2 separate regions of the Homo sapiens genome follow, and region 2 is linked to region 1. The links come from fine-mapping of genetic effects on gene expression. A gene starts in region 1. The other region holds a variant in brackets. All regions are shown on one strand. Distances are between the middles of the regions. Region 1 holds the start of COMMD7 (COMM domain containing 7). Region 2 overlaps COMMD7 (COMM domain containing 7).

What was found. PIP is the estimated chance that this variant, and not a neighbour inherited with it, causes the effect.
Region 2: its variant is the best candidate, but not a certain one, in a credible set for the expression of COMMD7 in whole blood (INTERVAL, PIP 0.87).

The regions. Positions count from the first base shown.
Region 1 is chr20:32,741,377-32,746,857 of GRCh38, forward strand. COMMD7 (COMM domain containing 7) reads right to left here and starts at 2,091. Exons shown (of 9, transcript NM_053041.3): 1 at 1,932-2,091. The coding sequence starts at 2,015. RefSeq lists enhancers at 1-257, 927-1,754, 2,642-3,586, 5,475-5,481 and silencers at 708-882, 1,867-1,936, 2,117-2,346.
Region 2 is chr20:32,707,764-32,712,763 of GRCh38, forward strand. The region is part of intron 3 of COMMD7 (COMM domain containing 7); the gene reads right to left. Among named protein-coding and RNA genes, the nearest start is that of COMMD7, 33 kb to the right of the region's middle. RefSeq lists an enhancer at 1,099-1,605 and a silencer at 3,624-3,918. The variant C/T (reference allele first, on the strand shown) is at 2,223.

The DNA of each region.
Region 1 (5,481 bases):
GTACCCAACTAGAAAGTTGTTTTTTTTTTTTTGAGATGAAGTCTCACTCTATTGCCCAGGCTGGAATGCAGTGGTGCAATCGCAGCTTACTGCAACCTCCACCTCTCAGGTTCAGGCGATTCTCCTGCCTTAGCCTCCAGAGTAGCCGGGACTACAAGTGCCCGCCACTACACCCAGCTAATTTTTGTATTTTTAGTAGAGACAGGGTTTCATCATGTTGGCCAGGATGGTCTCGATCTCCTGACCTTGTGATCCGCCCACCTTGGCCTCCCAAAGTCCTAGGGTAGGTGTGAGCCACCGTGCCCGGCCTATTTTTTATCTTTTATACTGTATTTGTACTGTACCTTTTCTATTTAGATTTGTCTAAACACACAAATATTTACCATTATAGTCCAGTTGCCTATGGTATTCAGTACAGTCACATGCTGTATAGGTTTGTAGCCTAGGAGCAATGCGCTATACCATATATCCTAGGGTGCAGTAGGTTTGTGTAAATAAACTCTAGGATGCTTGCATAAGATAAACTCAGGGCTGGGCACAGTGGCTCACGCCTGTAATCCCAACACTCTGGGAGGCTGAGGTGGGCAGATCACCTGAGGTCAGGTGTTCAAGACCAGCCTGGCCAACATGGTCAAACCCCATCTCTACTAAAAATACAAAAATTAGCTGGGCATGGTGGCGTGTGCCTGTAGTCCCAGTTACTCGGGAGACTGAGACAGAGAACTGGTTGAACCTGGGAGGCGGAGGTTGCAGTGACCCGAGATCGCGCCACTGCACTCCAGCCTGGGTGACAGAATGAGACTACGTCTCAAAAAAAAAAAATTAATTTCCATTTCTATTTAATTTTTAAATGTGGCTACTACAAAATGCAAAGTTAGAAATGTGGCTTGCAAATTTTTCTATTGCATAGCTCAAGCTTAGAACCTTCCTGTCGTTACAAGTTCTAAGTTTGGTTTTTATCTCGCAAGCAGCACTACTGTGTGGGAAGTTGTGGGGGGTATGGAGATGAAAGAAGAGGGGCGCTACCTCCTGGGAAGTGACAACCTAGCGGGGGAAATAGATGTATCTTCCCAGTGGGGGTGAGAAGTGTCATTCTCACCTATTTCAGCAGCCTTGGTGGTATGAAAAGGCATCCCAACCAGCACAGAAGCAGGATGCCTCCAAGACTGCCTTGGTTGGCACCTGCAGCCTGAAGGGGGAGAAAAAGGCTTTGCTAGCTCCCCTACCATCGAGGATGAAGACCCCCACTGTACACAGTGTATAAGGTTTCTTTCCATGTGAATCCCAGTGACTCTCCTTAACTGGGTGGAGGTGGAAGGTGTCATCAGCCTTGTCCCAGATCGAGCCCCTCAGGCCCACAGAGCCCCAGTGGGGCCTGGCTATTACTGACACTCATGTCACACTGAGATGTAAGACGGCAGCCCAGGCCAAGCTTCCCCGGGCCCCCTCAGATTCTCGGGCCCTCCCACTCCCCTCAGGCTTCCTCGGCCTCCCTGCCAAACATCTATCTCCCTTTGGACCCCACTGCTCCCCAAAACTCCCCACGCCCTTAGTCTGTTCCTTCAGTTCCCCAAACTCCTTCAGCCTCATCTAGACTCCCCTCCGTCCCTCTTCTAGGACCCCAAAAGCTCTCCTCGGCCCCAGGACCCCGCAGAGGTCCCGTAGTCCCATCTCTGAGACCCCACAAAGCCTTTCGGACCCCTCAGGTGGCCCTTAGGCCTCCGGAGATCCCTTGGCTCCCCACACTCTCCTCAGACCCCAGCTCACCTTAGCCTCGCCCCGAACCCACCTCACACACCCCAAACGCCCACAAGACGCCGCTCTGTCTAGTCTCTCCCAACTCCCGCGCACCCCCGGACGTCCCCCCCACCCCAGGCCCGGATCCTGGAATCACCTGGGCCCCGCGCCCCACGCCCCGCCGCCGGGCCCACCTGCGCGCCCAGCTGGTTCAGCTGCTGCATGTCGCCGCCCACGGCCTCCGGCACCGGGTCCTCAGTGCAGTGCAGGCGGCCCATGGCGCGCGCCCCAGCCCCGCAGGTTCCACCGCCGCCGCCGCCCTGCTCAGCTTCCTCCTCCGCTGCCGCTGCCACCGCTGCCGGCCTCTCCGCGCATCCACAACCGCACTTTCGCCACGGCCGTCGCAGCGCACTCCTCCCCCGGCCGCCCTGGGCTGTCCGGAGCCGGGGAGCCCTCGCAGGGCCGCGGACACGCGCGGCCGCCGGGCTCCGGGGAGGGGCAGGGGCGGCGCCGGCACCGGCAGACGCGAGGTTTCCTGCCAGCTCTCCCGCTGAGTGACCTTTGGGTACGGCGCTTGGCCTCTCTGAACCTCAGTTTCACCATCTGAGAAAATGATGGCTGGGGTAGCTCCTTAAATGAGTTAAGCCTCCAGAAATGTTTAACGCAGAGACCGGCACACAAGAGGTCTTCAATCAATGGCTAGCTGCTATTATCATCATCACTGTTACTATGCACTCCAGAGATATTTATGGCAGCCTACTCGATGCCAGACACTGGGGACAGGGAAGGGAACAAAGCAGGCCAGAGTGTCTCTCGGAGAGCTGACATCAGAGTAGAGACTAGGTCTCAACCTTGGAAGGGCATCAGCATCACCCCAGCATCACCTGGTATTGCCGGGCCCCGCCCCCAGAGGATCTGATTCGAAAGGCCAGGGTGGAGCCTGAGAATTTGCATTTCCAATAAGCACCCAGGGACTACACTTTGAGACCTTCTGGAGTGGAAGAAACTGACTTACCAAAGTTTCCTCAAAATAGTGCGAGGGCTTTGACTGTGCGGGGCAGGGAGGGTGGTGGTGAGGTGGGTGAGGGGAGGTTACTGAGACCGTGATCATCACTGCAGCCCCTCAAACACTCTAACCCCCATGCCCTCTCTTCCCAGGGGCTCCTCACAGTTCCCAGGTGAATATTACCCTAATCCCCACTGGAAACATGAGAAAATAGAGACATGCTACCCAGAATCTAGGAACTGAACGCCAAGCCTAAGGGCTTCACCTAGCCCCTAAGTCCAGCCTTGAGGGTAAAGAGGTAATGCCGAGAAACCTGGAGCAGGGAAATGTGGGGGGTTTGGCTGGCCTTCCTCACCAGCCCTCCTCCTCTCCTCTACCCTTTCCTGAAAATCCCTTCTGTAAAAGTATAAACAAAATGTCTTCTACCCGGCCCGGCGCGGTGGCTCACTCCTGTAATCCCAGCACTTTGGGAGGCTGAGGCGGGCGGATCACTTGAGGTCAGGAGTTTGAGACCAGCCTCAACATGGAGAAACTCCGTCTCTACTAAAAATACAAAATTAGCCGGGCGTAGTGGTGCATGTCTGTAATCTCAGCTACTCGGGAGGCTGAGGCAGGAGAATTCCCTGAACCCGGGAGGCATAGGTTGCGGTAAGCCGAGATCGCGCCATTGCACTCCAGCCTGGGCAACAAGAGCGAAACTCCGTCTCAAAGAAAAAACAAAAAAGTCTTCTACCCAAAGGCCAAGCCCATCCCCTTCAGTCATTATATCATTCATACATTCATTCAACAAATATTGAGTGGCACATGCCTGTGGTCCCAGCTACTCGGAGGCTGAGGCAAGAGGATCACTTGAGATCTTGAGATCGAGACTGCAGTGAACCCAGATGGCGCCACTGCACTCCAGCCTGGGCGACAGAGCAAGACCACATCTCCATAAAAAAAAAAGAAGGTCTGCTGTGAGGCAGATACCATGACATGATAGGGGGTGGGGATTCCACAGTGACACAACCAGATGAACCAGATGCAGTGCCTGGCCTCTGAGAAGTCAGAATTGACCCAGGGGGCAGACGCAAGTGTGTGTGAAAGTATTAAGGGATGCCAAAAAGTAGGAGGTGCTTTGAGAATGTGTACAGGACACAGTCCGAGTTTGGAGTACCTGGAAGAGAATAAACCTTCGGGTGACAAACAGACAGGAACTCAGAGGCCCTACTCACCGTGCAAGAATTTTTTTTTTTTTTTTTTTTGAGACAGATTCTGGCTCTGTCACCCAGGCTGGAGTGCAGTGGCACAATCTCGGCTCACTGCAATTTCTGCTTCCCGGGTTCTAGTGATTCTCCAGCCTCAGCCTCCCGAATAGCTGGGAATGCAGGTGGCCACCACCAAACCCAGCTAACTTTTGTCTTTTTTTTTTTTTTTTGGAAACGGAGTTTTGCTCTTTTTGTCCAGGCTGGAGTGCAATGGCGAGATCTCGGCTCACTGCAACCTCCGCCTCCCGGGTTCAAGTGATTCTCCTGTCTCAGCCTCCCAAGTAGCTGGGATTACAGGCATGTGCCACCACCCCGGCTAATTTTGTACTTTTAGTAGAGACGGGTTTCTCCATGTTGGTCAGGCTGGTCTTGAACTCCCCACCTCAGGTGATCCGCCTGCCTCGGCCTCCCAAAGTGCTGGGTTTACAGGCGCGAGCCACCGCACCTGGCCCAACTTTTGTCTTCTTACTAGAGATGGGTTTTCACCGCATTGGCCAGGCTGGTCTCATACTCCTGACCTCAAGTGATCCACCTGCGTCAGCCTCCCAAAGTGCTGGCATTACAGGCGTGAGCCACTGCACCTGGCCCGGAATTTTTATTTTTAAATATTTTTAACCTTGTTAAAAAAGAAGATCTGGGCTGGGCGCAGTGACGCATGCCTGTAATCCTAGCACTCTGGGAGGCTGAGGCCGGTGGATCACCTGAGGTCCGGAGTTCAAGACCAGCCTAGCCAACATAGTGAAACCCTGGTTCTACTAAAAATACAAAAATTAGCCGGGCATGGTGGTTCATGCCTGTAATCCCGGCTACTCTAGAGGCTGAGGCAGGAAAATCGCTTGAACCCAGTAGGCAGAGATTGCAGTGAGCCGAAATCCCACCACTGCACTCCAGCCTGAGCGACAGAGCAAGACTCTGTTCAAAAATAAATAAATAAATAGTTGGGGGAAAAAAAAAAGAAGATCCCCATCAGGGCATTACATTTCTTCATATCTTTAAGTGTTAAATCAACTGTTTAGGTATAAAAAATAAAATGAACCTGTTTTAAGTTTTGTTTTGTTTTTAACATCCTGGAGAAAACCACTGGATTTCTTTTCATTTCTGCTTCCACAGTGACTGGTGCTGAGTCACTTGATAAATACTGTATTTGTGGAACGGAATTAGCTCATGTGACAGAAAATACAGAAAAGGAAAGGAATTCACTTGAAACTGACACCCAATACTATAGGAATATGGTGACTCTTCTTTTCCAGTCTTTTTTTTTTTTTTTGAGACGGAGTCTCTCTCTGTCGCCCAGGCTGGAGTGCAGTGGTGCTATCTCGGCTCACTGCAAGCTCCGCCTCCCGGGTTCACGCCATTCTCCGGCCTCAGCCTCCCGAGTAGCTGGGACTACAGGTGCCCGCTATCACGCTTGGCTAATTTTTTGTATTTTTAGTAGAGACGGGGTTTCACCGTGTTAGCCAGGATGGTCTCCATCTCCTGACCTCGTGATTC
Region 2 (5,000 bases), 34 kb before region 1:
CAAGAGGCAGGGGAGTGTAATGTCAGGTTGGGCACAGGGGGCAACCACCTAGAGCTCCACAATGCATTATGTAGCCACTATTGCATGTGGTTATGCAAATTTTAATTAAATAAAATTTAAAATTCCATTCCTCAGTCTCACTAGCTATTTCCTGTGTCAAACAGTCACACAAGGCCAGTGACCATTATACTGAACACTGAAGATTACAGACCATTTACATCTGCAAAGAAAGTTCTATTGGATGGCATTGTCCTAAGAAGTTAGCTTTCACACAGTACACCAAGATGGACTAAACAGACTAACCTCTACAATTCACAAGTCACTTCCAGAGGGGCTGTCAAAACTTCTCAGAAGCCCTAGGAACACTTCCCTGTGGTGGTCACCTTGTTTTGCTAGGCTCCAATTCCTGAAAACAAAGCCAGCAATCTGGGCTTCTCAATGTTTAACCTGCAGGCTACATCCCCAGTCACAATTTGGCAACCACTCTCAAATTTTCCACTTTTTAGTTCACCAGAAAATGACTAATTAAAGAATAGGAAGATGCCAACCACCATCAAGGGAAGGCCCTGAACCTATACCCTAAACCCAAGTCCCCACCCCCAACTCACTCCAGAAAAACAATCCTAAAGGCTGTTGTACCGGTAAAATCAACCATATAAACAAAGGGAGGAAATCTTTTATCTCCAAAATCAGACTGAGCAAGGAAGCCACACGGAATAAAAAAGGCAAGACCCCGGGAAACCTTAGCCATAAAGGCCCTCTGAGAAGGTGGCTACTTCCCAGCCAATCCAAATAACTCCTAACTACCATGAATACAGTGTCTTAGTTTATATCCAATTCAAACCCAATGCTTTATTTGACAATCCCCAAACACTGGGCTTTATTATTGTAACTTTTTTTTTTTTTTTGAGACAGTGAGACACGGTTTCACTCTATCGCCCAGGCTGGAGTGCAGTTGGGCAATCTCAGCTCACCTCCTACCACACCGGGGTGGGTGGGTGGGGCTCAAGCAATCCTCCCACCTCAGCCTCCCACATAGCTGGGACTACAGGCGTGTGCCATGATGCCCAGCTAATTTTTTGAATTTTTGTAGGGACAGGGTCTTGCCATGTTGCCCAGGCTGGTCTCAAACTCCTGACCTCAAGCAATCCACCCACCTTGGCCTCCCAAAGTGCTGGGATTACAGACATGAGCCACCATGCCCAGCTATTATTTTAACTTAGTTTACCAGGAAACATTAAGCATTTTTGGGAGAAAATTTGGCAAATGCAGATAGTCAAGAATTGCACTGCCAAGAATTCACCCAACCAAGCTGCACCCAAAAGCACGCTGAGATATACAGGGGAAGCTCTTTAGCAATGTGGATAGTAGGGATGAAAGGTCATGGAGAGACCAGGCACGGTGGCTCATGCCTGTAATGCCAGCACTTTGGGAGGCTGAGGGGGTGGATCACTTGAGGTCAGTAGTTCGAGACCAGCCTGGCCAACGTGGCAAAACCCCGTCTCTACTAAAAGTACAAAAATTAGCCGGGTGTGGTGGCATGCGCCTGTAGTCCCAGCTACTTGGGAGGCTGAGGGTGCAGTGAGCAGAGACGGCACCACTGCATTACAGCCTGGCAACAGAGCAACTCTGTCTCAAAAAAAAAAAAAAACAGGCTGGGCGCCTGTTACAAAATTAGCCAGGAGGGTGAGGCAGGAGAATCATCTGAGCCTGGCAGGTGGAGGTTGCCGTGAGCCGAGATCTGCCACTGCACTCAAGCCTGGGCGACAGAGCGAGACTCCGTCTCAAAAACAAACGATGACAAAAACAACAAACAAAAACCTCAGGTCAGACCATGCTATTTTTTCTGCTCAAAACCCTCTACTATCTCCTATTTCACTCACAGTAAAATCCAAAGGTTGTACAACACCCTGCATGCTCTGGCCTCCTCTTAGAACCCCTAGGCTCTCTCCCTTGCTTACTGTGCTATTTTTAGAATATGCCAGACAGCTTTCTACCCCTGGCCATTTGCCCTTGCAGTTCTCTGCACATAGCTCATCCCTTCGCTTCATTCAGGGTTCTGCCTGACTCTTACCTCCTCAGAAAGGATCCCCGACCATTCTATTTCACATTTTTTCTTTTTTTACTTTTTTTTTTTTTTAATCTCATTCTGTCACCCAGGCTGGAGTGCGGTGGTGTAATCACGGCTCATTACAGCCTTGACCTCCTGGGCTTAATGGATC[C/T]TCCCACCTCAGGCTCCTAAGTAGCTGGGACTACAGGCATGCTCCACAATGCTTGACTAATTTTTAATTTTTTTTTCTAGAGATAGAGTCTCACTATCTTGCCAGCTCAAACTCCCGCACTCAAGCAATACTCCCACCTTGGCCTCTCAAAATGCTGGGATTACAGGCATGAGCTGCCAATCCCAGCCTCATTCTAATTTAAATAGCACTGCCCTTTACTCATACTCGTATAATGCTGTGGGATATTCTGCATTGCATTTATAACTACCCAACTTTATGTTATATATTTATTATCAATTTTTCCACTAGAACACCAGCTTGATAAGAACAAAGACTAGGCTCATTTTGCCTACTGCTGTGTCCCAAGCTCTGAGAGAAATGCCTGGCAAAGTTTATTGGTTGGCACTCAATAAAAGCACGTTGAATGCAAGAATCCTTACAATGGATTGCTATCCAGGCTTAAAAAAAATTATGTAAGGCCAAGTGCTGTCATCCCAGCACTTTGGGAGGCTGAGGTGGGAGGATACCTGAGCCCAGGGGTTCAAGACCAGTCTGGGCAATACAGGGAGACCCCATCTCTACAAAATAAAAAAATTAGCAAGGTATAGTGGCACAGGCCTGTGGTCCCAGCTACTCAGGAGGCTGAGGTGGGAGGATGGCTTGAGCCCAGGAGGTTGAGGCTACAGTGAACCATAATTGCATCACTGCACTCCAGCCTATGTAACAGGGTGAGACCTCATCTCAAAAAAAAAAAAAAAAAAAATAGATGTAGCTCAGTAGCTGTTGATGGACCAATCTGCATAATATAATGTCAAGAAAAAAAGGAAAGGCACCTATAATCCCAGCACTTTGGGAAGCTGAGGTGAGAGGATTGCTTGAGGCTAGGAATTTGAGACTAGCCTGGGCATCATAGCAAAACCCTGCCTCTACAAAAATAAAAATAAAAAATTACTTGGGTGTGGAGGTGCACACCTGTAATCCAGCTGCTCAGGAGGCTAAAATAGGAGGATCGCTTGAGCCCAGAAGTTTGAGGCTGCAGTGAGCCATGATGGCACCACTTCACTCCAGCCTGGGTGACAGAGCAAGACTCTATCTCTAAAAATAAATAAATAAAAATAAGTGTTACTTTGGCCGGGGGTGGTGGCTCACGCCCATAATCCCAGCACTTTGGGAGGCTGAGGCGGGTGGATCACTTGAGGTCAGGAGTTTGAGACCAGCCTGGTCAACGTGGTGAAACCCCGTCTCCACTAAAAATACAAAAATTAGCTGGGCGTGGTGGCACACGCCTGTAGTCCCAGCTACTTGGGAGGCTGAGGTAGGAGAATCGCTTAAACCTGGGAGGCAGAGGTTGCAGTGAGCCGAGATCACACCACTGCACTCCAGCCTGGACGACGGAGTGAGACTCTGTCTAAAAAAAAAAAATGTTACTTAAAAAAAAAAAAAAAAGGAAACAGTTAAAGGAACAAGGCCACAACAGTCAGCAACTGACAGAGCCAAGTGGCTTATAGGCCAGAGGGTCCCCACACCAAGTTCTTTCTACACCAGGTCATTCTCAGACGCTATCTTGGTGCTGCGGTATCAGGCAATGCCTTGACAGTTGCTGACAATGAAGTCAACAAAGCTGCAGGGATGGAAGAGCAAGCTCTCCATCCTGAAGTTACCTCTGGAGGGCAGAGGCCAGACTTGAAACATGGATTGGCATCATGCTAGGCCTCAAGCTCTTAACTTCTTTTTCAGCTTTTTCCTGTGGTGATTCCTTTGTCCTAAGCAAATGCCAGCCACAAGACAGACCTGCAACATTTGACCTTATGTCAGACAGAATGAAAATTGTGTGGGGCCTCTTGGAGGGTGGGGTGGGGGGAGGGATAGCATTAGGAAAAATAGTTATTCCATGCTGGGCTTAATACTTAGGTGATGGGCTGGGCGTGGTGGCTCGTGCCTGTAATCCCAGCACTTTCGGAGGCCGAGGCGGGTGGATCACAAGGTCAAGAGATCGAGACTGAGGGCTGGGCACGATGGCTCATGCCTGTAATCCCAGCACTTTGGGAGTCCGAGGTGGGCAGATCATGAGGTCAGGAGTTCGAGACCAGCCTGACCAACATGATGAAACCCCATCTCTACTAAAAATACAAAAATTAGCCGGGCGTGGTGGCAGGCGCCTGTAATCCCAGCTACTCAGGAGGCTGAGACAGGAGAATTGCTTGCACCCGGGAGGCAGAGGTTGCAGTGAGCCGAGATCGTGCCATTGCACTCCAGCCTGGGCCACAGAGCAAGACTCCGTCTCAAAAAAAAAAAAAAAAAAAAAAAAAGAGAGAGATCGAGACCATCCTGGACAATGTAGTGAAACTCCGTATCTACTAAAAAGTATAAAAATTAGCTGGGCATGGTGGCATGCATCTGTAGTCCCAGCTACTTAGGAGGCTGAGGCAGGAGAATTGCTTGAACCCAGGAGGCAGAGGTTGAAGTGAGCCAAGATCGCGCCACTGCACTCTAGCCTGGTGACAGAGCAAGATTCCGTCTCAAATTAAAAAAAAAAAAACCTAGGTGATGGGTTGACAGGTGCAGCAAACCACCATGGCATACTATGTAACAAATCTGCACACCCTGCACATGTACCCCAGACCTTTAAAAAAAAAAAAAAGAAAATTGTGTAAACTCCAACAGCTGCAGTCAGCAGAACATGACACGTGGGGAAATTTAAGAACATCCTTCTTCAAACACAGATAACTTTGAGATGGTCCCTTTTTTTTTTTTGACACGGAGACTTTTTTTTTTTTT